Homo sapiens: one gene and its partners. The protein of the gene in region 2 interacts with the protein of the main gene of each other region in a pairwise test. Each region holds a gene or a part of one and is shown on either strand. Other genes may lie near its edges.

What was found.
Region 1: the proteins of STMN4 (region 2) and MARCHF5 interact in binary tests that used the Homo sapiens proteins (3 or more experiments, as listed by UniProt).
Region 3: the proteins of STMN4 (region 2) and MALL interact in binary tests that used the Homo sapiens proteins (3 or more experiments, as listed by UniProt).
Region 4: the proteins of STMN4 (region 2) and TRAF3IP3 interact in binary tests that used the Homo sapiens proteins (3 or more experiments, as listed by UniProt).

The regions. Positions count from the first base shown.
Region 1 is NC_000010.11:92,343,143-92,350,168, reverse strand, and holds part of MARCHF5 (E3 ubiquitin-protein ligase MARCHF5), read right to left. Parts: intron 821-7,026; coding exon 637-820; intron 499-636; coding exon 332-498; intron 1-331. UniProt on the Homo sapiens protein: Mitochondrial E3 ubiquitin-protein ligase that plays a crucial role in the control of mitochondrial morphology by acting as a positive regulator of mitochondrial fission and as an important regulator of immune response.
Region 2 is NC_000008.11:27,255,395-27,262,750, forward strand, and holds the start of STMN4 (stathmin-4), read right to left. Parts: upstream 3,011-7,356; 5' UTR 2,957-3,010; intron 1-2,956. UniProt on the Homo sapiens protein: Exhibits microtubule-destabilizing activity.
Region 3 is NC_000002.12:110,084,818-110,091,843, forward strand, and holds part of MALL (MAL-like protein), read right to left. Parts: intron 6,954-7,026; coding exon 6,786-6,953; intron 2,881-6,785; coding exon 2,755-2,880; intron 1,707-2,754; exon of another isoform or gene 1,616-1,706; intron 941-1,615; coding exon 878-940; 3' UTR 1-877.
Region 4 is NC_000001.11:209,752,033-209,759,060, reverse strand, and holds the start of TRAF3IP3 (TRAF3-interacting JNK-activating modulator), read right to left. Parts: upstream 3,009-7,028; 5' UTR 2,752-3,008; intron 564-2,751; exon of another isoform or gene 207-563; intron 28-206; 5' UTR 1-27. UniProt on the Homo sapiens protein: Adapter protein that plays essential roles in both innate and adaptive immunity. Plays a crucial role in the regulation of thymocyte development.

The DNA of each region.
Region 1 (7,026 bases), on a different chromosome or scaffold from region 2:
TCACAGCAAGACAATTTCTGTGATGGGATTTGAACCAGGTGGTCTGATCGTAAAGTACTGTAATCCCACTGGCAAGAGGGACAGGTGTGATGATTCATGCATATGCCAGGAGAGAAAGCACCTACAACATAGTTCCAAAAGGCCAGAACTGCTGCAGTGGTTTCTCCTCTTTTTATTTCCACTCAAGCTATTGAATGATAGTGAGGCTCAAATAGAGGCTTAATGCATAGGAGCCACAGACCGAATATTTATACAGTTCCCCACCTTTTAAAAACAAATACACTTCATTCTCTTTTGCAAGGTAATATAAGTAATGTTAAAGCCGTCTTACCAAGATTGTCCTTTGTAAATTAGAGTTAACACTACTGAACATCAATTTACCAACTATTGTAGCAATAGTAGGAAAGACAAGGGCTCCACACAAGATTCGAGTAGCAGAGACATGATCTGCTAAAGGATTGGCCTCAGCTGGAATTCGAGGAACAGGACAACCTATCCCTAGAGGAAAAAAATGCAGTGCGTTAGTGCTAATAAATCAGAAGAGTTAGACTACCTTCAAACATGGCTAAAAAAGCATGTTATTGTTCTTCAAGATCAATTTGGTATGCACTTTACAACCACAGTTCAGTGCCTTACCTGGAAATATACTATTTAAAATTTGTAGTTTATTCGAGTATTTGCGCCACAGTCTAAGCACATAGTCCTCCCAGCGAATCATCTTGCCTAATATCAGCATGACAGGAATAGTAGGAAGTCCAATTAAAAGGAATAAAGGATCAGCTCTCTCCATAACATCCAGACCTTCTTTATGACCTACAACCTGTGAAACAGATAGCATATATTAGAATTACTTCTTTTTCAAATGAGGTGTTGCATGTTAAGCTCTATTTTTTTAATAGAAAATGCTTAATTTCAAAAGAATACACAGAAATAAAAAGTTTAAAAAATAAGCTGGAAAGCTATCAGTCCTGATTTATTTATAAGAAATGTCTCATTCAAGGGAAAAACAAAGTTCCCAAGCCATTTCATACCACACAGGAATAAAAATTAAAATGGCTGACCCAGACTGATTACATTACAATAGAGGGGCGGGGACCTCTGATTGTTGCTTCTATTCCTTTATTTGATTTGGTTAGACTGGGCTACGGAACTGGGATATAATTCTAAGTCCTATTTGTCTTCCAGCAAAACAACTGTTTTCCTGATCTTCCTTCTAGGAGATTAAGCATAGCCAGCCAAGAGGTAGGACCGGCCTTCAAGAGATGGCCTGAAAGCTCATTTCTCTTTGGCTCTTTCTCCTTACTTAGTGGTGTGTAAGATAGGGTGTGATGTCTCTGGCTGGCTAAGTGTCTACCCTACAGACCTAACCCTCCTTAAGTGCACTTCCAAGGTCTAGAATTGAGGGACTGTAGTAGGAGGTCCAGTTTTGGTTACAGATCCCAGGCATTTTTCCCAATTCAGGAACTCTAGGGTACCCTATCTATGGGGGTAATGAAGCTAATACAATCTTTTCCTTACCCTATCCTAGTCTTGGGGCTATTTCTAAATTGGTGTAGATCCCAGAAGGCGAGAAATACAAAATTGGCATTTGTGAACTTCTACCTTTTCCCTCTCTCCAAAATCCTTTTCACTTCCACATCAATCTTGGCCTTAAATTTACCTCTTTTTGTTGTTGTTTTTGAGATGGAGTCTCGCTGTGTTGCCCAGGCTGGAGTGCAGTGGTGTGATCTTGGCTCACTGCAACCTCCGGCTCCTGGATTCAAGCGATTCTTCTGCCTTAGCCTCCCGAGTAGCTGGGATTACAGGGGCATGCCACCATGCCCAGCTAATTTGTGTATTTTTAGTAGAGACGAGGTTTCATCATGTTGGCCAGGTTGGTCTCGAACTCCTGACCTCAGGTGATCAGCCTGCCTCGGCCTCTCAAAGTGCTGGGATTACAGGCGCGAGCCACCGTGCCTGGCCAAAAATTTTTTTTTTTTTTTTGAGACGGAATTTTTTGCTCTTGTTGCCCAGGCTGGAGTGCAATGGCACGATCTTGGCTCACTGCAACCTCTGCCTCCCAGGTTCAAGCAATTCTCCTGCCTCAGCCTTTCGAGTAGCTGGGATTACAGGTGTGCACCTCCACGCCCAGCTAATTTTTGTATTTTTAGTAGAGACGGGGTTTCTCCACATTGGTCAGGCTGATCTCGAACTCCTGACCTCAGGTGATCCACCCGCCTCGGCCTCCGACAGTGCTGGGATTACAGGCGTGAGCCACTGCGCCCGGCCCCAGAAATGTTTTATGAAAGTGTGTGGAGAGGACCAAATTTGAGCTATGGATATAGTCCAGATTTCCACTTGGTTAATTTATCTAATTAAGATGTAATATTAAAGGGCAGGAGGCTAGCCTCTTCCTAATGGTCAATAATGTCATCGAATTTGATATTCTTCTGTGTCTCCAGGTAGAACTTAACAACTTCCTATCTTGCATGTGGAAGGTGATCCTTTTGAGTTGCCCTAAAGTGAAATGGTCTGGTTTATGATATTTCATAAACCCCAATTCCATAATGGTAGCAAAAGTTAGCTGGCCATGACTGTTTTACCTATAATGATTTCCCAGGAAATTTCTTTATCTATCTATCTATCTATCTATCTATATATCTATCATCTATCTATCTATCTATCTATCTATCTATCTATCTATCTATCTATCTATCTATCTATCTGAGACGGAGTTTCAGTCTTGGCATGATCTTGGCTCACTGCAACCTCCACCTCCTGAGTTCAAGCTATTCTTCTGCCTCAACCTCCTGAGTAGATGGGATTACAGGCACATGGCACAACACCTGGCTACTTTTTTGTATTTTTAGTAGAAATGGGGTTTCACCACGTTAGCCAGGTTGGTCTCGAATTCCTGACCTCAGGTGATCCGCCTGCCTTGGCCCCCCAAAGTGCTGGGATTATAGGCGTGACCCACCACGCCCGGCCAGGAAATTCCTTTAAAGAAAAAAAAAGACAGGGTCTTGCTACGTTTCCCAGGTTGGCTTTGTACTCCTGGGCTCAAGCAATCTTCCCACCTCACCCTCCTGAGTAGCTGGAACTACAGATGAGTGCCACCACGTCTGGCTAAGAAATTCTATTTTTATATCATTAAAAATTTCAATATAATGATCACTCTAACATTATAACTAAATATGATTAAATATTCTCAAAGTGTTAGCAAATAAATTCAGAATATTTGAAAAAATCCTTTGTCGGGTTATGTGTCCTTTTTTTGGGTTTAGAAATATAAAGAAGAGTGAATATTCAGGTATAGACTAGAGCGAACAAGAGGAAGTTTGTTTCTCATGGGTAGCAGTAAAAACCTTATAAGGTGTTTAAGAATAAGGAAACAAAAAGGAAGTAGGGGTTGGGCACTGTGACTCACAATTGTAATCCTAGCACTTTGGGAGGCTGAGGCAGGCGGATCACCTGAGGTCAGGAGTTTGAGACCAGCCTGACCAACATGGTGGAACCCCGTTTCTATTAAAAATACAAGCCAGGCGTGGTGGTGGTCATCTGTAATCCCAACTACTCGGGAGGCTGAAGCAGGAGAATCGCTTGAACCCAAGAGGTGGAGGTTGCAGTGAGCCGAGATTGCACCAGCCTGAGCAACAAGAGTGAAACTCCATCTCAAAAAAAAAAAAAAAAAAAAAAAGAAGGAAATAGGGCAAAGAATGAGCAAAGGCCCAGTATTTCACTTGTTACAACTAAAGTGAAGAGAGATGCCCCATGCTCAAGCAAGTTAGAAGTGGGATGAGGCTCATCATTCACACATGCATTCATTCATTCACTGAATAATGATTTTGTGCTGGGGCTAAAATGGCAGGTTAAACAGATGTCTTTTGAAAGTGAGAGAAAATCAAACCAAACAAGTGTGCAAATATATACACTGTGAAGAAATAAGGTAGTATAACACCTGCAGTACACCACTTGCTAAAACAGTCATACTCAGGGGCAATAAATGAAAGGTGATTAAGCAATAGGCCTGATTTAATTTTGGCCAATACAAAGTCAGTGAACCTGTGTGTAATCACATACATTCTGCTTTCTTGTCCCAAGATTTAAAAACATTATTTTTAAGACTTCGATTTTGGGGTAAGCTCCAGGAATTATATAGAATGTCTAAGAATTTGTTATCTATGTATAAAATAAAGGCCTGGCTGGGCACAGTGGCTCACGCCTGTAATCCAAGCACTTTGGGAGGCTGAGGTAGGTGGGTAACTTGAGTCTAGGAGTTTGAGACTGGGCAACATGGTGAAACCCTGTCTCTACAAAAAATACAAAAATTAGCAGGGCGTGGTGGCATGTGTATGTAGTCCCAGCTGTGCAGGAGGCTGAGGTGGGAGGATCACCTGAGCCCAGGGAGTTCGAGGATGCAGTGAGCCGTGACTGCGCCACTGCATTCCAGCCTGGGTAACAGAATGAGACTCTGTCTCAAAAAAAAAAAAAAGAAAAAAAAAAAAGAGAAAAACAAAAGACCTATAGAATTGCAGGTTTAGAGAAAAATAATTTTTTGTTTTTCCTGCAGAAGGGCTAAAAGCTAGATTTTCATATCTAGGTAGGCCTGCAGTTCATTGCTGCTGAAAGGCTAACAGTTTTAATTAAGGTCTGAGCTTTTAAATTATTATTAGAATTCTACATTAATTAATTAGAGACAGAGTCTTGCTCTGTCGCCCAGGCTGGAGTGCAATCTTGGCTCACTACAACCTCTGCCTCCCAGGTTCAAGCGATTCTCACGCCTCAGCATCCGGAGTAGCTGGGAATACAGCCACTATGCCTAATTTTTTCTTTGTATTTTTGGTAGAGATGGGGTTTCATCATGTTGACCAGGCTGGTCTCCAACTCCTGGCCTCAAGGGTTCTGCCTGCCTCAGCTTCCCAACGTGCTGGGATTACAGGCATGAGCTACAGCACCTGGCCAGAATCCTAACAAGAGGATGAAACAGTGATGAAATAACAGGGTTTTTTTTTTTTTAACTCAGAATCAAGGATAAGTAAGTACTGTAATTAAGAATGGGCAATGCTAATGGGGGCTGTCTTTGCACTAGAGGCAAAAATGGGAACTAGGCTAAACATATTAAGGTTCCACTGTTCCAGGATAAAATGTTCCAGCTGCCTCTGGGACCAGGCTTCACTTAAGGAGCCAAGGGACAGGAGTCCTAATGCTTCTCTGCTGTGTGGCACTGGACCTGTAAACTCTCTAAACCAGTAAACTAGGAATAATTTATAACAATAATCTATGTCATAAAATTGTTGCAAGGGTTAAATGCATCAGTGCTAGGTGTTCAATACAGTGCCGAGAAAAAAAAATTATTGTGTTGTCTTTTCAATAAAAATGCAAGAGGAAGGTCCTATTCAAGTTCCCCACAACTAAAAAGTATTGATTCTATGACAGGTCCATGGAGAAGGAAAGAAAATAAATGGGAAAATAACAGTGATCTGATTCCTTGATTTGGTTTACTTGTACTGCAGGGTTGTTAAGGAATCAGAGAAAAACAATCAAGTGTTAGAAGGCAAACCCTAAATACTACTGATGGTGTAGAGGGGCACATTCTCTATCATATGTGCTCAGGAAGGTAAAAGTCATCTTCCCAATACTCTTAAATCACACAACACTATCCACCTACTGTCATAGCTAGTCTCATTTCTGGGCTAAAAAAAAAAAATCTTTTCAAGTGAGACATTACATGTGAAGGTTATTTCTAAATGGTAACACATATGTGTACTATAGTTTTTGCTTCCTTGCTTATTTCATTCTACCAATTCAAATTATTTCCTTTAAGGGTTAGCTCAAGACTTTTCTCATAATTTCAAATCAAATTATCTTTCACTTTTACTGAATTAAAATATTGTTTATATAGTCTTCTGCCCTCTTATCACATTTATCTATCTAACCTGTAACTGTTCTCCAGTGGTTTCATTTATGAACGTCTTGTCTTGGACTATATCCCTTGATGCTGGGGATCAGAGTTTTCAATTTATTTGTGTTTTAACAAGTGCCCCATTAATTATCAAAATTCTTTTAACATTGTGCCAGCCTAAAAATCTTTCTTAAAAAAGAGCCATCTCACTTCTTATGGTCAATAAAGTCTTAAGAAAATAACTCAATCTCATTTGCAAAATATATATATCTATATAATGTATTTGTACATTAAATAATGTATAATCTGCTCTAAGTTTCTATGTCTTTCTCAGTCTTAGTAAATCATCCTGATCCTCCCTCCTCAGGTGATGTACTAATACTCATTATTTGAAGTGGTCACATAAAAAACATAAAGACTGCCGGGTGCAGTGGCTCACACCTGTAATCCCAGCACTTTGGGAAGCAGAGGCAGGCAGATCATCTAAGGTCAGGAGTTCCAGACCAGCCTGACCAACATGGTGAAACCCCATCTCTACTAAAAAGACAAAATTAGCTGGGCGTGGTGGCACATGCCTGTAATCCCAGCTACTCGGGAGGCTGAGGCAGGAGAATCGCTTGAACCCGGAAAGCGGAGGTTGCGGTGAGCTGAGATCACGCCACCGTACTCCAGCCTGGACAACAAGAGCGAAACTCTGTCTCAAACAAAAAAACAAAAAACAAAACCACAAAGATTTATGAAACCCTTTAATGTGTTAGTTTCTATGTAGATGCTGTAACAGGGAATACAGAAGCATAAAATGGACTCTGCTTTCAAGGAAATTACCTCCTAACAGGAAAAATAAGGCCTAAAAACAAGAAAAGTTAAACAGATAATCTATATAAGAAATGTCACTTCATCAGGGCAGGACTAGCTGCCATTTGAGGAATAAAAATGTCATGAATGTGGGGGAAGAAGGAATCACAGCAGGCAGGAGTTGCCTGTAAGTTCTATGGAGGAAAGCTAGCTAAGCCTGGAAGGAGGGTTTAGATTTGGATAAGTACACAGAAGACTAGAAGGGCAGGTATTAGGTTGGGAAGGTGACGTAAGCCAAAGGACAGAGGTGAAAAACTACACAACATAAGGATGGGTTGGAGGAGACAGCC
Region 2 (7,356 bases):
CCAGGTAAGTATGAAATAATATAAAGATATCAGAGGGGGCAGGGGAGACAGTCTGAAGCATTCTTGAAAAATTAAGCCTTTCTTTGATTATGATCTTGATACTTAAATATCCTATTATTTAAAAGCAAGAACACAAAATATCTGAATTTTTCCAATCCGTCTATACAGTTGGTTTAATATAGACACAATTCTCCTCCTTTCTTTATCTCTCTCTTACCTTCCTAATTTATTTGCCCCATGTTCCTTTTTCCTGCTCAAATACCCTATTCTCTGAACCTCAGTTTGTCAATCTTTGTTGCTCTATTTTAAAAGTTATCAATCAGCCCACATCCCCCTACAGGAAAAATGTGGTTAAAAATGGCCTAGTCCAGTAAAAGAAGATAGCCACTTGGAATTTGGGTTTCTTTTATTGAACCAAAGTGAAATCTAGCTATTAAGCAGCCATCCAAGCAAAAATGCAGGACACTTTCACCGTCCCTCCACCTCTAGTCGACAACCTGGCCACTATGGACAATATGAGACCAAACTTCTCCGTCTTTGATAGGTCCTTTAGAATGAAGTAACTCACTAAAGAAGGACAGCTTCCCATAAAAAAAAATATTTAGATTTAATTACAACTTAAAGGCACTTATTTTTTACTTGGGAATAGGGACACACAGTGTACAACATGGATGAGCCTTGAGGACATTACACTCAGCGAAATAAGCCAATCATAAAAAGACAAGTACTGTATGATTCCACTTATCTGAGGTACCTAGAGGAGTTAAATTTATAGAGAAAGAATGTAGGATGGGATTTTCCAGGGGCTGGGGCACAGGAGAATGGGAAGTTAGTGTCTAATGGGTATGGAGTTTCAGTTTTGCCAAATGAAAAGAGTTCTGAAGATTGCATGCACAGCAATGTAAATCTTAATACTACTGATTTGTACACTTAAAAATAGAATGGCAAATTTTATGTTATGTGTATTTACCGCAGTTAAAAATTAAAAAAAAAAGGTTGACTATCTATTGGGAGTTTTTCATAGGCTTGTAGTCTTAGGGTTAGGAGAGGTAATTAGAAGTCACTTAGCCTAATGTTTCTCAAACTTTTTTGACTGAAGCTCACAAAAGGTGCTACATTTTATATTATGATCCAGTATGTATTTGTCATGATATGGACATATACACACATATATGATTACAGATACAGACATATATGTACATTTGTACACACAAATATACACATAACTGATATGTAACTAAAGACAGCATAGGAAGCATTAATTATCCCATTACATGAGATGTGCTCTAATTATTTTCTACTCTTATTCCATTTTATTAAAACAAAATACCATTTACAATCCATAAGTTGATTTCACAATGTACTAATGGGTCTCAGCCTTCAGTTAAAACACTAACCTAGACCAATCCCTAACATAATGCAAAAATCTCCTCTAAAGCCTCCCTGCTGGGTGGCCATCCAACTTCTGCTTGAATGCCTTCAGTGACAGGGAACTCACTCCCTACAGGGCAGCATGCTCTATGGTAGTCCCATCTAGCACTTGCAGATCCTGCTCACTCCAGAGCTGTTCCAGGAGTGGCCTGGGTGGAGCTGAGAATGCCAGGAGGGCTGGGACCAGCTGACAGGTGCTCAGTGGTTTCCAAGAGGGGTGAAAGTACAGCTCCTAGCAGCAAAGCGGAGGGTTGGGGTGAGCCAGAGACTAGGGCAGCATTGCTGGGAGACTCTGGCTTCCTTCTGTGGAGCTGCAGATCAGACCTTTTCCCCTCTGCCTTCTCACTGCTCCAGCACTATGATTATTTCCTCATCTGAAGGATGATCTCATTCCCCTAGCACCCGCCTGTGGGAGAGGTTTCCTCCCCCTGGGAGGCGGGGGCTCAGCCTCAGGTGGAGACAGATTCCCTCATATTCCCTCTCAACCTCCCACCCATCCCTCGAGCCTCAGCAGGCCACCTCTGGCCATCCCACCTTGTATTCTCTTGGTCTTAAGACAGGGGGTATCCCTTCCCAGGGCATTCAGATAAGGGTGCCTGAACATTCCTGACCTCTCCCTCCGACCCCCATACAAACACACACACACACACACACACACACACACACACACACACACAGCATTCTGGAGACCTGCTCATGTTCAGGACAACAAGACTCCACCACACCTGATTGTGTCTTCCTGGGAGAAATAAAACAAAGACAGCACCGCCACGTGGGGACAGCTGACTGCTGGACATCAAAACCCTGGGTCCCAGGATGAGAAATGAATGATGCCTAAACTCCTGGCAAGTGTGGTGGGCTGAATAAGGAGGGGGACTGGCCAGGGCCCCAGTCAAGGACCAGGGCGTGGCAGTTCTGGGTGTCTGCAGTTTTCAGCTTTGGAGCCAGCCACCTCTGGCCAGGTAGGATTAGGCTGACCTCAGGGTGGGGCGGGGCCAAGAGGAGGTGATGATCTCATTGCATCCTTAGAACCAAGAGAAAAAAGTAACCCGTGCATAGAGCCGAAGGAAAAGATGTGTGATCAAAATGGGAATGGGAGACAAGAAAAGCTGTGTCTGAGGAAGAAAAGGTAAAAACACAGGAGAGCTTCCCACTTGAAAGGGATCTTCAGGTCACAGCCAGCTGCAGGGGCAGCCAGACTCAGCACAAAACCTTTCTCCTTAAGCAACAAAACATTTTTATGCAGAAATAGCTCACCATAGCATCTGACAATTCCCACCCATCCTGCCTCTCCTGAGCTCTGGAATAAAAGTGGCACCCGGAGCCCACCCTCACCCCTTGGCCGAGCGCCATTCTTTCTGCCTCACCCCCTTTCCCCCAAGATCTGACAAAGTTTAAATGATTGAGTAGAACCAAAGGTGACACAATAGGTGCTAGGCCCCTCGCTTCTCCCCACTGTAGCTGCTGTCTTGTTTTTTCTTTTGCCTGAAAAGCCTCAAATTAGTTGCATTTTATTTCTACTTACGTGCAGTCCAGTTAGAAGCGAGCTGCTCTCTTCCTCACTCCCTCAATTAGTGGTACCCTGGGCTTCTCTCAACATCAGCACCACTGCTCGCTCTTGCCATGACATCACCTCCAAGCTCTGTGATTGGCCAGCAGTGGGTTGCTTGGCAATTGGACAGTCTCCTCTGGTGGAGCAGGGATTGCCTGAGTGAGTAACTCTTAGCAGGCCAGGGAGTGAAAGATGATGTCAGACAAAGAGCCTGCTTTCTCTGCTGCCTGTGGAGCTGGAGAACCAGAGGGGTGAGGGCGGAGAGGAAGAAAGAAAGAGGGAGTGGTACAGAGAAGGTTGGGGAGAAGCCACAGCTTGCGAGCTGGGGGTATAATGAATGATTTCCAGGATCTTTAGGTCCTTTAAATTTGGGGGTGAGAGAATATGGAATCCAGAGAAGAAATAAAAAAGAACAGATGAACCCTAAAAATAGCTTCCTGGAGGGCTTGGTGCCTGTTTCCAGCTCTGTCAGAAGGGCTGGTGGGTTTGAACGATGACTCAGAAGGCGGGGGGTTGCGGGGACTGCAAAAACCCCAGGATTGGGAGCTGATGAGGGCCCTGCACTGGAGTCTCTGGAGAATAAGGCTTCCCTCTGGCCACCTTTGCAAAGGTATCAGCCACATCTCTGCTGACACTAGTGGGTCCTCACTGCCCCTCCCATCCAGCCCTCCTGGGCCTTCCAGAGGGAGCCACAGGTAGGAAGATGGACTGGTCATTACACTGGTGATTCCCAAATATGGTGGATTTTTTAAAATTTTCAGTAAGTTTTTGGGAAACAGGTGGTGTTTGGTTACATGAATAAGTTCTTTAGTGGTGATTTCTGAGATTTTGGTGCACCATCACCCGAGCAGTGTACGCTGTCCCCAGTGAGTAGTCTTTTATCCCTCACTCTCCTCCCACTCTTTCCCCCAAGTCTCCTAAGTCCCTTGTATCATTCTTATGCCTTCGCGCCCTCCTAGCTTAGCTCCCACTTATGAGTGAGAACATATGATGTTTGGTTTTCCATTCCTGAGTTACTTCACTTAGAATAATGGTCTCCAATTCCACCCAGGTTGCTGCAAATGCCATTATTTCATTGCTTTTTATGGCTGAGTAGTATTCCACGGTGTGTGTGTGTGTGTGTGTGTGTGTGTGTGTGTGTGTGTGTATTACATTTTCTTTATCCACTTGTTAATTGGTGGGCATTTGGGCTGGTTCTATATTTTTGCAATTGCGAATCATGCTGCTATAAGCATGCATGTGCAAGTATCTTTTTTGTACAATAACTTCTTTTTCTCTGGGTAGATACCCAGGAGTAGGATTGGTGGATCAAATGGTAGATTTACTTTTAGTTCTTTAAAAATTTTTCACACTGTTTTCCATAGTGACTGTACTAGTTTACATTTCCATATGGTGGAATCTTGAGGGGGGGTGACGGGTCAGCGATGGTGGCTTCTGTAGTTCCCTCAGGGAATGAGGGAGCCACTAACATAACCTTCACAGGCTGCTGCCCTCAGCCAGTGAGCTGGAGAGGGCAGGGTGAGGCAGGAGAGGAGCCAGGCAGCTGTGGAGCGAGACCCCCTCCTCCAGAACACCTCTCCAGATTAAATCCCCCCAAGATGTGTCCATCATCCCCACATTCCACCGTCCAGCCTTGCCTCATGTGTTCTTCTTGGTGGGGAGGGGTAATTTTTTTTCTTTTTTTTTTGAGACAGAGTCTCGCTCTGTCACCCAGGGTGGAGTGCAATGGCGTGATCTCGGCTCACTGCAACCTCCACCTCCCGAATTCAAGAGATTCTCCCGCCTCAGCCTCCTGAGTCACTGGAACTACAGGCACGCACCACCACACCTGGCTAATTTTTGTATTTTTAGTAGAGATGGGGTTTCACCATATTGGTCAGTCTGGACTTGAACTCCTGACCTCGTGATCTGCCTGCCTCAGCCTCCCAAAGTGCTGGGATTATAGGCATGAGCCACCACGCCCAGCCGGGGAGGGGTAATTTTATTGAGGCTGAACATGTCCAACATAACGCTCACCATTTTCACTATTTTGAAGTGTATAGCTCACTGGCCTCAAGTGCACACGCATTGCTGTGTAGCCATCACAGCTTTCCATCTCCAGAACTTTGGCATGTTCCCCAATATTCATATGTAACCAGTAAGCAATAACACTCCTTTCCAGCTAACCCCAAACTACTTTCTGTCTCTATGAATTTGCCTATTCTAGGCACCTCGTATCAGTGAAATCAAATAGTATTGTCCTTTTGTATCTGGCTTCATTCTCTTGGCATGTCTTCAAGGAGCATCCATGTTGTAGCATGTGTGATAATTCCATCACCTTGCTCCTCCCTCCTTTTTTTTTTTTTTTTTTTTTTACAAAGTCTTGCTTTGTCATTGAGGCTGGAGTGCAGTGATGTGATCATGGCTTACTGCAACCTCTGCCTCCCAGACTCAAGTGATACTCCCACCTCAGCCTCCCCAGTAGCTGGGACTACAGGCATGTGCCACCACACCCAGCTAATTTTTTATAGAATCAGGTTTTCACCATGTTGCCCAGGCTGGTCTCAAACTCCTGGGCTCCCACCTGCCTTGGCCTCCCAAAGTGCTGGGATTATAGGCATGAACCACCACGCCTGGCACCTCACCCTATTTTAGGAGGGTTTGTTCACCCTCTACCACCAAACCCCTATTGACTGAGAACACGAATAATGACAAAAGTTGCCTTGAATTCAGCCCATGCTTTGAAGTTATTATTTTTAAACTACAGTAGCATCAATGAGCATTTGAAAATCATAGTTAATGCATGGATGTCACATGTTCACCCTGCAGACTGTGCTGGGGATTAAGTAGATTCTCAAGCCCTGGCATGAACCCCTGACCTGCACCCCACTGCCAGGACCTGCAAGCTGGCATCTCACCACAGCACCCCGTGTGGTTCTCCAGGAGGCCCCATGTAGACACACATCTCCAAGCCCCCACTTCACATCCAGAGGGGAGGGCTCCAGTTAGGCTGCCAGCCCCTGGCCAAGCGGTGGCCAGGATGAGGAATGAGCCCTGACAGCCTTTGGGGTTTTCAAAGCACACCAGAGCTGAATCTATGGTGTAATCCTTTCAGCAGGGCTGCAAGGACGGCAGGACGAACACTGTGCTGTTTGACATTCAGTGAGTATCACTGAACAACACACTTATCATTCATGCCACATGCCACCAACCCAGGACCCTCAGCCATCAAGCTGAGCCTTTTCAGTGGGAATCAGGACAACTAAGGATATCAGAAAGTCATTCCCTCAACATGTGGAGACAGGAGAGGCCACACTGCATACCAGGCTGGAATTTGGAGTCCAAGCAAACCCCAAATGCATGGCTATCCTAGCTGTGAAGGGGGCCTCTCTGTCCTCCCCTAGTATCTTCCCTCCCAGCCCTGAGAAGTCTGGAACTCCACAAATCTGCTGGCTCTGGAAAGTGAGGGATGGGGAGAGAAGGCAGTAGGTTGCCATGGTGATGGCAGCCAATCAGAGATCCTCTGCTGCTAGGGGAGGAGCAAGTTCGGTCTGAGTCCCCCTCACTGACTGTGAAGGAGGGTGGAGCTGGAACAGGGGGAGAAAGAGACAGGACATCACTGCCTGACAGCAGAGACCAAGGTCGGGGAGAAGGGTCATGGGGAGGGTGGCTCTATTTCTAGGATTACCTAGTTTCCATTTGGTACTAGGTTGTGATGGTTACACACACACACACACACACACACTCAGTACATCTCACAACTGCCCTGTGAGAAAGGGATTACCCACCCCATTTATAAAAGAAACAGACTCCAATAGGAAAGGTAACCTCAAACAGCCTACCTGTTATGCAGCGAGGCCTGGATTTGAACTCTGGGGAACGGGATGCGGGAGACACTGGCGAGAGAGTGAGTAAGGTAAGCAGGGTAGAGCCACGGCCCCAAAGACCTACTGGGTGGGAGAGTCCCTGGGACTTCCCTGAGATGGCATAAAGCAATATGTTGATAAAACAAGAAACACAGAAATGGTAAGAAAATGTACCAAACACCAAGTCCATAGAACAAAGGGCGAGGAGAGACCAAAATCAGAAAAGAAATCAGCAAGGTCAAAACTAGGAGGCTCAGAAGGACAGGATGGCGATCAGGGAGCAGGTGGAGGGGAAGGCGAGGTGGGCGCTCTGTTCCTCACACCGCAATATGGAAAGCCCCTGTGAGCCTTGTTGAGAAATGTGGGCTGGCCCTGGACCTGCCAAGTCAACTTTGGGTTAGACCTGTTGCTTGTGATCAATCTACCCAAATGCTGGACTTTAGCCAAAGGGGCATGGGGCCCACAACGCCCCTCTGCAGACACCACCTCTCACAGCCCAAGTTGCACTACAGCAACAATACTAGGATG
Region 3 (7,026 bases), on a different chromosome or scaffold from region 2:
GGAAGTGGGAGGGTGGTGGGCAGGGTGGCTTGACCCTGTCAGCCTCCCAGGGAACTCGGGACCACGGCTCCCCAGCACAGGCTGAACAAGTACCAGGAACAAGGTCTATGCATCTGCGTTAGATCTGAAGGCCTTGGCAGCACCTCTTCAATTTTAAGAGAATCAGGCCGGGCGCGGTGGCTCACGCCTGTAATCCCAGCACTTTGGGAGGCCGAGGCGGGCGGATCACGAGGTCAGGAGATCGAGACCATCCTGGCTAATACGGTGAAACCCCATCTCTACTAAAAATACAACTAAATTAGCCGGGCACGGTGGTGGGCGCCTGTAGTCCCGGCTACTCGGGAGGCTGAGGCAGGAGAATGGCGGGAACCCGGGAGGCGGAGCCTGCAGTGAGTGGAGATCGCGTCACTGCACTCCAGCCTTGGAGGAAGAGCGAGACTCCGTCTCAAAAAAAACAAAATAAAACAAACAAAAAAAAGATCAGACTGAGTATTCCCCTAGACCTACTCTAGGGAAGCCCATAGCTGAGGCAAAATCCCCAAACAGACTTGGCATTAGTGGGGCTAGGATTCTCCATTAGTGGAGTGAGGGCTTTGATGTGAGTTGTCTAGAAGAGCAAGTTCATGGTCAGATAATTCCAAGAGACAGTTGTTTTCCCAGGAAAAAGAAAAGCTTCCTCCTATTCAGCAGAGTGAATTTAAATGTCCAAACAAAGTGTGGTGTCATCGCTCAGTCTGCAAGGACGTTCTGTTAATCCCGTGGACGTTTTAGTGGATCTTCCGTTTGTCATCCAGATGGCAAACGTTGGAAGCTGCTTTTGGGGACCAATAATTGGAGCTTTCAAAGAGCATTTCCCCCTTGGCCTGGCGCCTGTGCATCAGTGGTAATAGATGCTGAAGGCATGGAGAATGTAGAGCAGCGTGGCGATGAAGGCGAAGAACTGGAAGGAGGTGGAGAGTGACTGTTAGAGACAGCAGCGCCAGCTCCTGCCCACCCCTCAGGTACCCTCAGCCCCACTGCCCAGGAGGCCACGCATGACCCTGCCTCCTCGCCTCCTGCGTGGCCTGAGGGCAGCAACCCCTGGCCAACAACTCCCTCTTCTGGAAACTCTCCATCAGGGCCTCCCTGGGGCCGTCCTGGTGTCCTGCCCCGACTGCAGTCTCCACCTCATCTGCACCTGGCTGTGAAGCAGGCTCACCTCCACCACAGCTCTGGGCCCATATCCCACGCTGACCTCCTGCCCGAGGCCCGCTCTCCTCTGCCCACCTCCAGCAAATCTGTGTTCTGAACACTCCTACAGCTCCCCTCGCTGGCCCAGAACTCTGCCCTGAGCGGCTGCTTATCAGCTCCTCGTGAATGTTCAGACATCCTCCAGCTCTTCCTGGCTCACACTGAGCCCCTGACGTTTCCTCACAAGCCTGACAAGCCCAGTGGGCCCCAGGGTCCTCCTCTCGCCCCACTCCCTGAGCCTGACCCCTGTGGCCCCTGGCTCCTCCTGCCTCCCTTGCCAGCCATATGCAAAGCCACCCCAAAGGCTACTGATTTCCCTGCCTAGCTCTTGGGACATTCATTTTTCCCTTGTCTCAGCCACCGGCATCCCTCGGCAGGACTCCTCATGGCCTCACTTGTCCACTTCTTCCTGCCCTGCCCCTCGAATCTGCTCCACCATTTGGGCAGGGCAGGCAGAAGTGGACAAGTGAGGACACTTCTCACTCATGGGGAGAACACAATCCCGTTGCCCCACGTTGAAGCTGTATGATGGCTCTGCTCTTTTCTCAGGGTAGGGCCGTCACCTTCAATACCTTTCAGGCCCTGCCAAACATCCCAGCCCCACTCTGCCCCACTGTCCACTCACACGCTCCTCATTCAGTCAGTCAGTCAACAAATATCTTTTAAGGACCTGCTTTCCTTCAAGAGCAACTGTGGGTATAACAGTGAAGAAAATATTCAAAAATTCCTGCCCTCATGGAGCTTACATTTGAGAGATAAGAAGCAGATAGCAGCAAGATAGATGAGTAGCACATACATGGGTTAGATGGAGGTAAATGCCACCCACTGTGGAGTGCACTGTGACCCTCTGGGGTGGCCACAAGATATTTCAGCTGCCTTCTGGCCTGTCTGCCTCCCTTCCCTCCTCATCAGGTGAGTTTAACTTCCTAAACTTGCAAGACCAGCAACGGCCCCTGCAATCCTCCATGGCCAGCTGTCCCAGCTACACCACCCTCCTGGCTGCCCTTGAGCACACAGAGGGTCCTTGGCAGGGGTAACTGCCTGGTGGGACCTTAGCAGGGGTAACTGCCTGGTGGCCCCTGCCTCCTTCTGTCCTCTTGACAGGGCCTTCCCTGATGCCTCCTCCCCTGAGACCTCGACATTCCACTTTCCCCTTCCCTGCTTCATCTCTCAATAGTTCAGCCATGCCGAGGGATGCGGGCCCCATTCCAAAGGCAGTGGGTGCCATTGAAGGATTTTCAGTAGGAGAGAGACATCTGTTCCAATTTGTGTTTTGGAAAAAGAAAATTCTGCAGACAGCGTGGGGGGTGTCTAAGAGAGAGGAAAGCTGGAGTGGGAACAATAGAAGGTAAAAGAGGACCCCTGAACGTGGGTGCACATGTTTACAGGGACACACATCCCTATCCCCTGCCCCCATGGCTCCTTCCACTTGAGGGCTCAGGGTCTATACAGCACAAGCAAAGTTAGGCCTCCTGCACGAAACATCCTCCAGGCAAGACTGCTGTCCTTGGCCAGCCCACTCACCGAGGCTGCCGAATTAATGTAGTAAATTCTTGGGTCCAGCAGTTTCTCAGAAACAATCGTGGCATGTACTTGTAGGACGGCAGCGCTCATGTACAGGATGCCAGTGGTCCCGTGGTACAGGCTGTCCTGGAAATGCAGAGCAGAGCCACGCATGGCCACATCAATCAGGTGAACATTTTCCTCTCTGGCTACATAGCAGTAAAGAATGAGCAAATGAGGCAGGCCAGCCCCCTAGAGTCCTGCCTTTTTTTTTTTTTTTTGCAGTGTGATTTGGTTTGGCTCTGTGTCCCTGCCCAAATCTCATCTCGAATTGTAATCCCCACATGTTGGGGGAGGGACCTGGTGGGAGATGACTGGATTATGGGGGCAGTTTCCCCATGCTGTTCTCGTGATAGTGAGGGAGTTCTCATAAGATCTGATGGTTTAAAAGTGTGACACTTCCCTCTCTCACTCCTGCTGCCATGTAAGGTGTGCCTTGCTTCCCCTTCGCCTTCCACCATGATTGTAAGATTCCTGAGACCTCCCTAGCCATGCAGAACTGTGAGCCAATTAAACCTCTTTTCCTTATAAATTACCCAGCCTCAGGTAGTTCTTTACAGCAGTGTGAGAACAGACTAATACAGAAAATTGGTACCAGGAGTCAGGCACTGCTATAAAGATACCTGAAAATGTGGAAGCAACTTTGGAACTGGATAATGGGCAAAGGTTGGAACAGTTTGGGGTACCCAGAAGAAGACAGGAAGATGTAGGAAAGTTTGGAACTTTCTAGAGACTTGTTGAATGATTCTGACCAAAATGCTGATGGTGATATGGACAATGAAATCCAGGCTGAGGTGGTCTCAGATGGAGATGAGGAACTTATTGGGAACTGGAATAAAGGTCACTCTTGCTATGCTTTAGCAAAGAGACTGGTGGCATTTTACCCCTGTCCTAGAGATCTGTGGCACTCTGAACTTAAAAGAGATGATTTGGGGTATCTGGCAGAAGAAATTTCTAAGCATTGAAGCATTCAAGATGTGACCTGACTTTTCCTGAAAGTGTACAATCATATGCATTCACAAAGAGATGGTCCAAAATTGGAACTTATGTTTAAAAGGGAAGCAGAACATAAAAGTTTGGAAAATTTGCAGCCTGATCATGTGTTAGAAAAGAAAAACATATTTTCTGGGGAGAAATTCAAGCTGTCAGCTGCAGAAATTTTCATGAGTAATGAGGGTCCCCAAGACAAAGGGGACGATATCTCCAGGGCATTTCAGAGATCTTCACAGTAGCCCCTCCCATCACAGGCTCAGAGACCTAGGAGGGAAAAATGGTTTTGTGGGCCAGGCTCAGGGCCCTGTTGCTCTGCACAGTCCTGGAACACAGCACTCTGCAACCCGGCTGCCCCAGCTCCAGCAGCTGGGGGCCAAGGTACAGCTTGGGCCATTGCTTCAGAGTGTGTAAGCCTCAAGCCTTGGCAGCTTACACATGGTGTTGGACCTACAGGCATGCAGAAGGCAAGAATTGAGGTTTAGGAACCTCTGCCATGATTTCAGAGGATGTATGGAAATGACTGGATGTACAGGCAGAGTCTGCTGCAGGGGTGGAGCCCTTATGAAGAACCTCTACTAGGGCAGTGCAGAAGGGACATGTGGGGTCAGACCCCCCACAGAGAGTCCCCACTGTGACACTGGCTAGTACAGCTGTGAGAAGAGCTGTCCTGTAGACCCCAGAATGGTAGGTTCACTGACAGTTTGCACTGGTCACCTTGAAAAAGCACAGACACTCAATGCCAGTTTGTGAAAGCAGCTGCAGGGGCTGTACTGTGAAGAGCCACAGAGGTGGAGCTGCCCAAGGTCTTGGGTGCCCACCCTTTGTAACAGGGTGACTTGAATCTGAGACATGAAGTCAAAGGAGATTTTGGAATGTCGACATTTAATGGCTGCCCAGCTGGGTTTAGGACTTGCATGGGGCCTGTAGCCCCTTTGTTTTGACCAATTTCTCCCATTTGGAATGGGAGCATTTACCCAATGCCTGTACCCTTATTGTGTCTTGGAAGTAACTAACTTGCTTTTTGATTTTACAGGCTCATAGGCAGAAGAGACTTCTCTTGTCTTAGATGAGACTTTGGACTTAAACTTTTGGGTTAATGCTGGAATAAGTTGAAACTTTGGGGGACTGTTGAGAAGGCATGATTGTATTTTTAAATGTGAGAAGGATGAGATTTGGGAGGGGCCAGTGGTATAATGATATGGTTTGGCTCTTTGTCCCCACCCAAATCTCATCTCCTATTGTAATCCACATGTATCAAGGGAGGGACCTGGTGGGAGGTGATTGGATCATGGGGGCAGTTTCCCCTATGCTGTTCTCATGATAGTGAATGAGTTCTCATGGGATCTGATGGTTTAAAAGTATGGCACTTCCCCCTCCCCCATCTCTCCTGCTGCCATGCAAGGCATGCCTTGCTTAGCCTTCACCTTCCACCATGATTGTAAGTTTCCTGAGGCCTCCCTAACCATGAGGAACTAGTCAATTCAACCTCTTTTCTTTATAATTTACCCAGTCTCTGGTTGTTTATAGCAATGTGAGAATAGACTAATACACAGTGTTTTTAATGTAATATCTATGTCGTAAGCAATGGCAGACTAATAAAGATCAGTATATTTCAGTTACGCAAAGTCAATCTTGGTCTGAAATATTAAATGAAAAATTCCAGAAATTAACAATTAAATGTGTGCCTTTCTGAGTACAATGATGAAATCTTGCACTGTCCCGCCCTGTTCCACCTGGGATGTGAATCAGACATTTGTCTAGCATGTCTACACTGTCTGTGCCACCCATGTTAGTCGCTTTGTACTCATCTGGGCTATCAGATCAACTGTTGTGGCACTGCAGTGCTTGCATTCAAAGAATCCTTATTTTACTTCATAATGGCCCCAAATTGCAAGAGTAGTGATGCTGGCAATTTGGATATGCCAAAGAGAAGTCATAGGGTGCTTTCTTTAAGTTAAAAAGTATAAGTTTTCAGCTTAATAAGGAAAGAAAAAAAATATGCTGAGGTTGTTAAGATCTACAGTAAGAATGAATTGTCTATCTGTGAAATTGTGAAGAAGAAAAAAGAAGTGCATGCATAGCAAATTCGGAGTTCAGTACTCTCTGAGGATTCAGGCATCCCCTAGGGGTCTTGGGACTTATCCTCCGGAGATGGGGGACCACTGTATACTGTCTTAGGTATGCTGAGGAATTGTTTACTTCGTATACATGTGATAATGTGAGAAAGTTTGCGGAGTTTTTTTGGAAACATACTGAAGTGTGTGGAATAGAATGGCATGATGTTTGGTGTTTGCTTTAAAATTCCTTAGTGGGGACAAAGGCTAGATGAAACAAATGTGGTAAGGTCTTGATAATGCTGGAATCTGGGTTATGGCTACATGAGGGCCTATAATACAATATTCTGTACTTTTAAATATGTCTTCAATTGTTCAGTGTGGAACAGTTTTAAATGGTTTTTTGAGATGACGTGATAAATAAAAATTAGTGATGTAATATTAAATGAAAGCATCTACATCCAAAATTATTTGTAGAGTACAATTAAAGTATATATATACATATATATACATATATACATATGTATATACGTATATATGTATATATACTTTGCATATAATTCATGTGGGATATGGAAGAAATACCCTGTCGCAGGGATTGTGTTAGGGCCTTGAGAATGGAGTGATTTTTTTCCTACTAGCTTTTTCTTCAGTGTTGCTCCAAGGATTTTACCAGGAAGAAAATTTAGGGGAAACACATCAGAATATGCTTGATCACAGGTCATTGTGTATTCTCCTAACAGGGAAGCCAGTGAAGGGGAATACCAGGAATTATTTACGCTTGCAGATAAATGTCTTCATTTTAGCGTGGTAGTAAAAATGGTAAGATAAAAAGTCTTGGTTCCATAGGAGCCTAGCCCAGGATCCCTCCCTGCCCAGAAAGGCCAATTGTCCTCACCCAACCCAGAACGTCCACCCAGGAAGAGCCATGCTGCTGGTTCTTACCAGAACTCTCCAGGATTCAAATCTTTTGTAAAATCCAAACAAGTAAGACAACAGGAACATCAAGGAGATGAGAAACGAGGTGAGCGAGACATACATCACCCATCCTTGCAGCAAGGGGTATACTATGTGGGTGGCGGCTACCATGGTCCAGACCAAGAACCCAAATATCTGGAAGATAAAAGCATAAAAGAAGGGGCTTCATTAGCTAGTGTGGAGTATGTTTCCCTTTGCAGGGTGTCTC
Region 4 (7,028 bases), on a different chromosome or scaffold from region 2:
CACATGAATTGTACCTCAATAAGGCTGCTGCAAACAGAAAAGAAACAAAACAAAGACAGTAATCAGAAGTTTCCAGGGAGCCAGGCTTGGTGTAGGGGCCACAGGATGACCCTCTGCATGGCCTTACCTGATATTCACATAGCACCTAGACCTGAATCCCCTTTTCCTTCTCTGTGCCTTTCTCTTTCCTACTCTTCCCCACCTACCTTCTGTAGTTTATCCTCCTAGAACCCTCTGGTCACTTTGCTGAGTTGGGCTGGATTTGGATGAGCTGGATCCTGAGCGTTGGAAATTCTGTGTCCTGCCTCCTCTGATCACTGGAGTCAGACCAGGGACTGATGAAGGAAGAGGGACTCCCCCTCACAGCTGCTGCTGCTTCTCTTCCTCCCACGACCTCATTACCCACCACCCTGGGAGGAGGGTATCTCAGCTTCACCAACTAGCAGGCATTTGCTAGCTCTAACCCCTTGGGGTTTATTTATAGGCCAAACAGACTCAACAGGTAGCAGACTCTCTGCCCCTTTACTGGGACTTCGCTACTCTGGCTCAGTCTGGAATTCTCTGCAGGATTCTTGTTTTCTCTCTGATCCTACCACTCATTCCCCAGGGTCATGGGTGGGGCAGTCTTCTTCCCTGAGAGGAGTTTTGTGTGGTCAAGCCCTGGACACTCAAATGCCTGACTCTTGAGGGTTGGAGGGGCATACTCTGGTGTCAGGCAGCATTGATTCCAAGCAGAAATGTGAGGTTATTAATGTTTGTCCTCTACATACCCATTCTGAATGGCTCTCTTCTTTGTTTTTCCTTACTTCTTCTTCTCGGATAAGGGTGGGAGTGGGCATAGGGGGTGGTCCCTTGACTTCTTCCCTGCCACTTTCTTTATTTAAAGACTTAAAAGAAAGGGTCTGAGAGACCCATGTCTATTGTTATAAATGACTGAATGGAGGAGACGCAGGATTATGTGCATGTGAACTCCATGTCTAGAACCTACACTCACAGCATCCCTGAGCCACAGCCCCTGGCTATTCTGCCATGGATTGCAGTGGAGAACCCTGGCTCTTGGAGTCACACTGCGTGGACTCATGTCCTGGCTCTGTCACCTACAACCTGTGTGTGTTTTTAGATAAGCTATTAAACATCTCTAAGCCCCAGTCTCCTCATTTATAAAATGGGGCTAGGACCTGCCTTGTAGGTTATAAGGATTAAATGACAAAATGCAGGCCATGCACCTGGCATGGAGCACACAATAAATGTTACCTTTTAATAATAAAGACATAAAGTATTCCTATTAGGTTGGTGCAAAAGTAATTGCGAATATTATCCTTGTTATGCCGATGTTGGATATTGAAGACTTGGTGCTGTAAGACAAAGGCTCCAAGCTAAACTAGCACTTCTAGGACCAAGAATGCCTTCTCTCATCCTCTCAACCCTCTCTCTCTTTGACAGAGTATATTGTTTACCAGATTGAGGGGATGCTGGCCCCAGGCTGAAGTCACATTTACTTCTGACCTCTGGGTTTGGGCTATAAGGAGAAAGGCTTCTCTGTGGTCTGGACATAATTGCCATCCCAATTACACCAAGCCGAAAGGTAAGGAAGAGATGGGGTCTGCCTGTGTCACACATAAGGTGTGAGGTCCCCTCCCTGTTTGGCTCAGCTTCCCCACAGGTTTTGTAGTGGAGGCAGAACATTGAGAATCCTCCTACCTTCTTGCCGCGAAGAGGAAAGGGCTGTGGGGGAGAAGACAGTGCCTGAGATGAGGTCTCTCTGGGCTCTCCACCCAGGCCACCAACCTTAGTCCACTGAAACACACAGCTGCTCTGCTCTCTGCTTCCTTGGGGCAGACATGGAGCCTTCTTACCCAAGAAAGGAGCTGCAGTGGAAATGGCTCCTTAGAGAGGGGAGTGTTCCCAGATGCCTTGGCTACCACACCTGCTAGGATTTGGTGCAGCATGCTGCATAGAACCCTACCCAGGTTTCTGGGATATCTGGACCCTACTGACTTGCTTGAAAACAAGAAGGTATGTGGGACGGCTGACAGGGGTAGGCTGCTAAAGAAAAGGGAACTGGTCCCTGTAGGGTTCAAAGAAAGATCACTTGGCCACTGCCCAGGCTTTCTGGCATCTCTCAGGTTCCCCCCTGGCAGCATGACTGGGCTCACTTAGAGCTTGGAGGAAGAAGGTTTACTGGCTGGGAAGGCTCAGCCTGGTCTCTCAGGCTGCAGAGAGAGAACAGGGCATGGCTCCTCACCTGACTGTGGCTTGACATGCCTTTCTGAGTCTCGCTTTTACTTCCTGGCCATGTTTGTAATGGAGACAATGAATGGCTTCCTGCATGGGTTGGCCTTCCTGGCCCAGAGCTCTCAGTGTGAACTGAGGGGAGAGGGGCCTGCGCTTAAGCTGCTGGGAAGGCAGTCTTGTGTTCAGGGATCCCTGCTTTGAAGAAAACTGTAAAAGGTCATTTAATTCATGCCCATATCACTGGGTAGCCTGAACTCTAAGTCGTTTGACTCACTCCTAATCTAATGTAATCTAATCTACTGGAACAGAGGAGTGGTGCAAGCTGTACCCTGTGCCATGGCTAGCGCCACAGGAAACCAATACAGGATACTTTCTTGGTTACCCAAACCCCTGACACCCTTAAACTATGCCACCCACTCTCCACCCAGGGGAGCTGGGATGGTAGAGCATCTTCTGCCCTACCCCGAAGTTGGAGTTCCCAAACCTGGACACAAAAGCATCCTCCTTCTCAGTTACCTCCTAGTCCCAGGCTCCAACTCAAGCCACTCGGGAAAGCATTCCAGTCCTGGGCAGATCTTGGCTCTGGTCTCAGATGGAGCAAGACAGCAGATGGGTAAAGCACACGCTTTCAATCCATAGGTCTGGGCCCCATTAACACGTCCCTTCTTGGTACCGTCTTTCTTTTTGCACAGCAGCCTTGCTGAAACAGGAAACAGACAAAGCCACAAGGTTCGCAAACCCCAGTTCCTCTCTCTTGCTCTCTGGTATCATCTAAGTGGGCCCCTGAACTCTGAGGCCTCCAGGGCTGGGCTCAGGAGCTCCTCCCATCAGTAGGCACCCCGGCCACCCTTTCTCTTGCTACTGGATTGGTCGGAGCTCTTGGACAGTTTCAAGTCAAGATTCCTTTCCATGATTAGAAAAGGATAGTCCTCTGGGTCAGATTCAGACCTTTGTGGTTTCTATGAGAGGGAAAAAAATGCCTTTTTGGTGGTAAGACCTAGATGAGATGTTCTCAGTGTAGGCTTTCATGTGTATCAGGTAGTTCTTTGTGTAAGGATTTTCCTTTTTCTTTAGCCACCTCTTCCCAATCCTGGTGTTGTAAAGAGTTTCTGCTCTTCTGAAGTAGGTGGTGTCTTTCTCAGATTCTGGAATGAGACCAACTCTGGATTTGCTCCTTTCTGGAGCAATGAGGAGGGAGTGTAAAGGTGGGTAGCTGGGGGATGAAGGAAGGAATAGAAGGCAGAGTCTTCTACACATTTTTTTATCTGGTCAACCGGACTAGGAAATTTAGGGAAAAACTAAAGGGAACTGATTTGCATGCATTAAGATGAAGCCATCACAAATGATGCAGCCAGGAAATTCCCAAGAAGTTCAGGCTAAAATAGTGGAGAGGAAACTGGATTGGGACAAGTTAACTGAGCAGCTTTGTAACCTTGTAAAATTCACCTTGTCTGGATGCTACTCACTGTGGTAGTTGGGTGATGTATGTGGCTCTTTGGAATTCTAAGGTTTGACACATGTGAGGCAGGTAATGAGACTTAAAAATAGCTGTGATAACATTTATTAACATGTGGAGAGTTTGTCACCATTTTCTCTGCTTCTGCTTCTTTCTCTGTTCTTTGAGGAGAAAAAGGACAAGGAATCGGCAGGGAAAAGCAGAGGATGGATTCTCAAGCACTAGGACTGAAGACAAGTGGCATTTACTCAGGATGAGAGACAACAGCTCAAGGCCCTGTGTCTGGAGCTTGACACATAGAGATGGGAATGAGTAGAGGACAGAGGGCTTGGGGAGCCCAAGATGTCAGAAAAAGAGAATTTTGGCCGGGCACAGTGGCTCACACCTGTAATCCCAGCACTTTGGGAGGTCCAGGTGGGTGGATCACTTGAGGTCAAGAGTTCAAGACTAGCCTGGCCAACATGGTGAAACCCCATCTCTACCAAAAATATAAAAAATTAGCCGGATGTCATGGCATGTGCCTGTAAACCCAGCTACTTGGGAGGCTGAGGCACAAGAATCGCTTGAACCTGGGAGGCAGAGGTTGCAGTGAGCCAAGAATGTGCCACTGCACTCTAGCCTGGGCGACAGAGTGAGACGGAGTTTCACTCTTGTTGCCTAAGCTGGAGTGCAATTGCGCGATCTCGGTTCACTGCAACCTCCGCCTCCCAGGTTCAAGCAATTCTCCTGCCTCAGCCTCCTGAGTAGCTGGGATTACAGGCATACGCCACCATGCCTGGATAATTTTTTGTATTTAGTAGAAATGGGGTTTCAACCATGTTAGTCAGGCTGGACTCAAACTACTGACCTCAGGTGATCCACCTGCCTCGGCCTCCCAAAGTGCTGCGATCACAGGCATGAGCCACCACGCCTGGCCAGAGAATTTTTATTGGCATAGAAGAGTGAGAAGATTCTGGGAGTTCAGGGCATTAGAGCGTAAAGAAAGACAGGAGATTTTAATAGGAGTTCCTATAGAGACCTACTATTTGGACTCCATTAAACATCAGAAAGAAATGTCTACAAAGTCCGCAGTCATTGGGATACTAATCCCATGATAACTGGGATTTAGAGTGGTCAATGATATGCTCAAGATCACACAGAAAGTGTTGGACCCAGGTTTGCTTGACAGTAGGTTTGAGCCCTTAACATTGTGTTCTGAGAACAAAACAATTAATAAGGTTGTCATACCTATCTATCTATATTGAAAAAGACACACACACACACACAGAACTTTGAGAATAGAAAATATACCTTATTTTCAAATGCCCACGAGACATTAAAAAAATTGACCATATGGATCAAAAAGTAAACCTCAGTATATGTTTTGAAAAGTTGATCTATTATGGCAGGATTTTCTGACCACAGTACAATACAATTGAAATAAATAACAAAAGATGGAAGAAAGAAACACTTTAACTTCTTGGAAAAAAATTCTTCCCATTTACTCTGAAAAGATAGAGGGAATTTCAAATCTGCAATTAAGAATGCATTGAAAACGGTGATAGTGGCAACATTATGAGGAAAATCTGTGAGGTATGGCCAAGCAGAATGCAAGGAAAATTCCTAGCTTTAAACATTTTCATTACCTAAATCAAGAAGATTAAAAATAAATTTCCTATTCATTTATTTTCAAATGAATTGCTAAAAAATGATCAGAAAAAAAGGAGGTGAGAATTTTGAAATGATAAAAGGAGAATATATAATAAGTTAGAATCCTGTTTAAAATTGATAAAAAAAATTCAGTTTTGTGTGTGCATCTGGCAGGGGGAGGAATGGTAGACATACAAATAGAAAACAAAATCAATAAAATAAAATATCAGCGAGCCAAATCAATTTAAAAAAGAGAAAAGACATTATAAAAGTTTAGGAATGATACATGGAAAGTAGCCACGATACGGTGGAAATTAATTATAGAGAGTCATTTGTGTAACTATGCTAATGATTTTTAAAATCTAGATAAAATGGATTTAAGAAAATGAATTTACCAAATTAAGCTCAAGTAGAGATTTGTAGTGTAATCATCAGCTGGCCTCCAATAGAGGGTTTAATTCAGGCTGCTCTTGAGCTGGGCACCAGGCTTTTAGTGGCCAGTATCCTTTGCTTCTCCTCATCATTTCCAGGTTCAATGGGAACAACGGCTCCCTTTTTTGATGGTCATATTCTGAAACAGTTTCCTTGATAGATGCTGGGCCCTGTGTAGTCCCCCATGAGGCGATGAGTATGGGGTAAGCTACCCTTTCCTTTATAGCCTGGTTGCTTCACAATACCACACAAGCATGTGTAAGATTATCAGATTTTATTGTACAGTTGGGGTAACTAAACTATATGCTAATATGACTTCTCCCATACTCCAAGAGACAGCACTAAGGAGTTAAAAAAATTTTTTTTTTCTTGAGATGGAGTTTCGCTCTGTTGCCCAAGCTGGAGTGCAGTGGCATGATCTCAGCTCACTGCAACCTCTGCCTCCCGGGTGCCTCAGCCTCTGGAGTAGCTGGGATTATAGGCATGCACCACCACGTCTGGCTAATTTTTTGTATTTTTAGTAGAGACGGGGTTTTGCAATGTTGGCCCGGCTGGTCTCGAACTCCTGACCTTAAGTGATCCACCTGCCTTAGCCTCCCAAAGTACTAGGATTACAGGCATGAGCCACCATGAAGTTAAACACTTTATGGGGGTCCCCTCATGGGTGTTACCAGTTCTAATCCCACTCCTCTTTCCACTCTACAGGGTGACTCCTACCTATCTTCTGGGAAATGGCAACCTCATTCATAAGAGTTGTTCTTGCCTTAGAATCCTTCCCTACACTCCTGACAAGGTTTCTTCAGCACCGCATTCCTCAAGTCTAAGTTATTCATTCTAGAATAGTGCTGCAGACACTCTTAATAGGATAGTCCACAGCGGCCTTGGCACTCCAAATTTTGCAGAACAGCTCAGGGCAGGCATACTTAAGTCTGTTCGCATTCAAGTTCAAGTTCTCCTTATCAGGTGACTTGCAGACTCTCCTCCTTAGTTTTCCAAGTGTCTAGCTGGTAACTGTTTACTCAGATGTCCACACAAACATCCCAAAGACAAATATTCATTCTCAGAGATGATACAGTCTAAACTCACCAGGAGGAAGACAAGTATTTCCTTGACTCCTACGTTTGCAAGGTTGCTGCTCTGTCGAGTTATGACTGTACATTTGTGGCAGGACAGAGTTCTAAGTCCTCCTCTTGTCTTTGCTTGCTTTGTATCATCATTGTTGGTAGAGAGCCTTTTCGTGTAATGAAACCTCAAATTTATGCTGTAAGAGACTTTC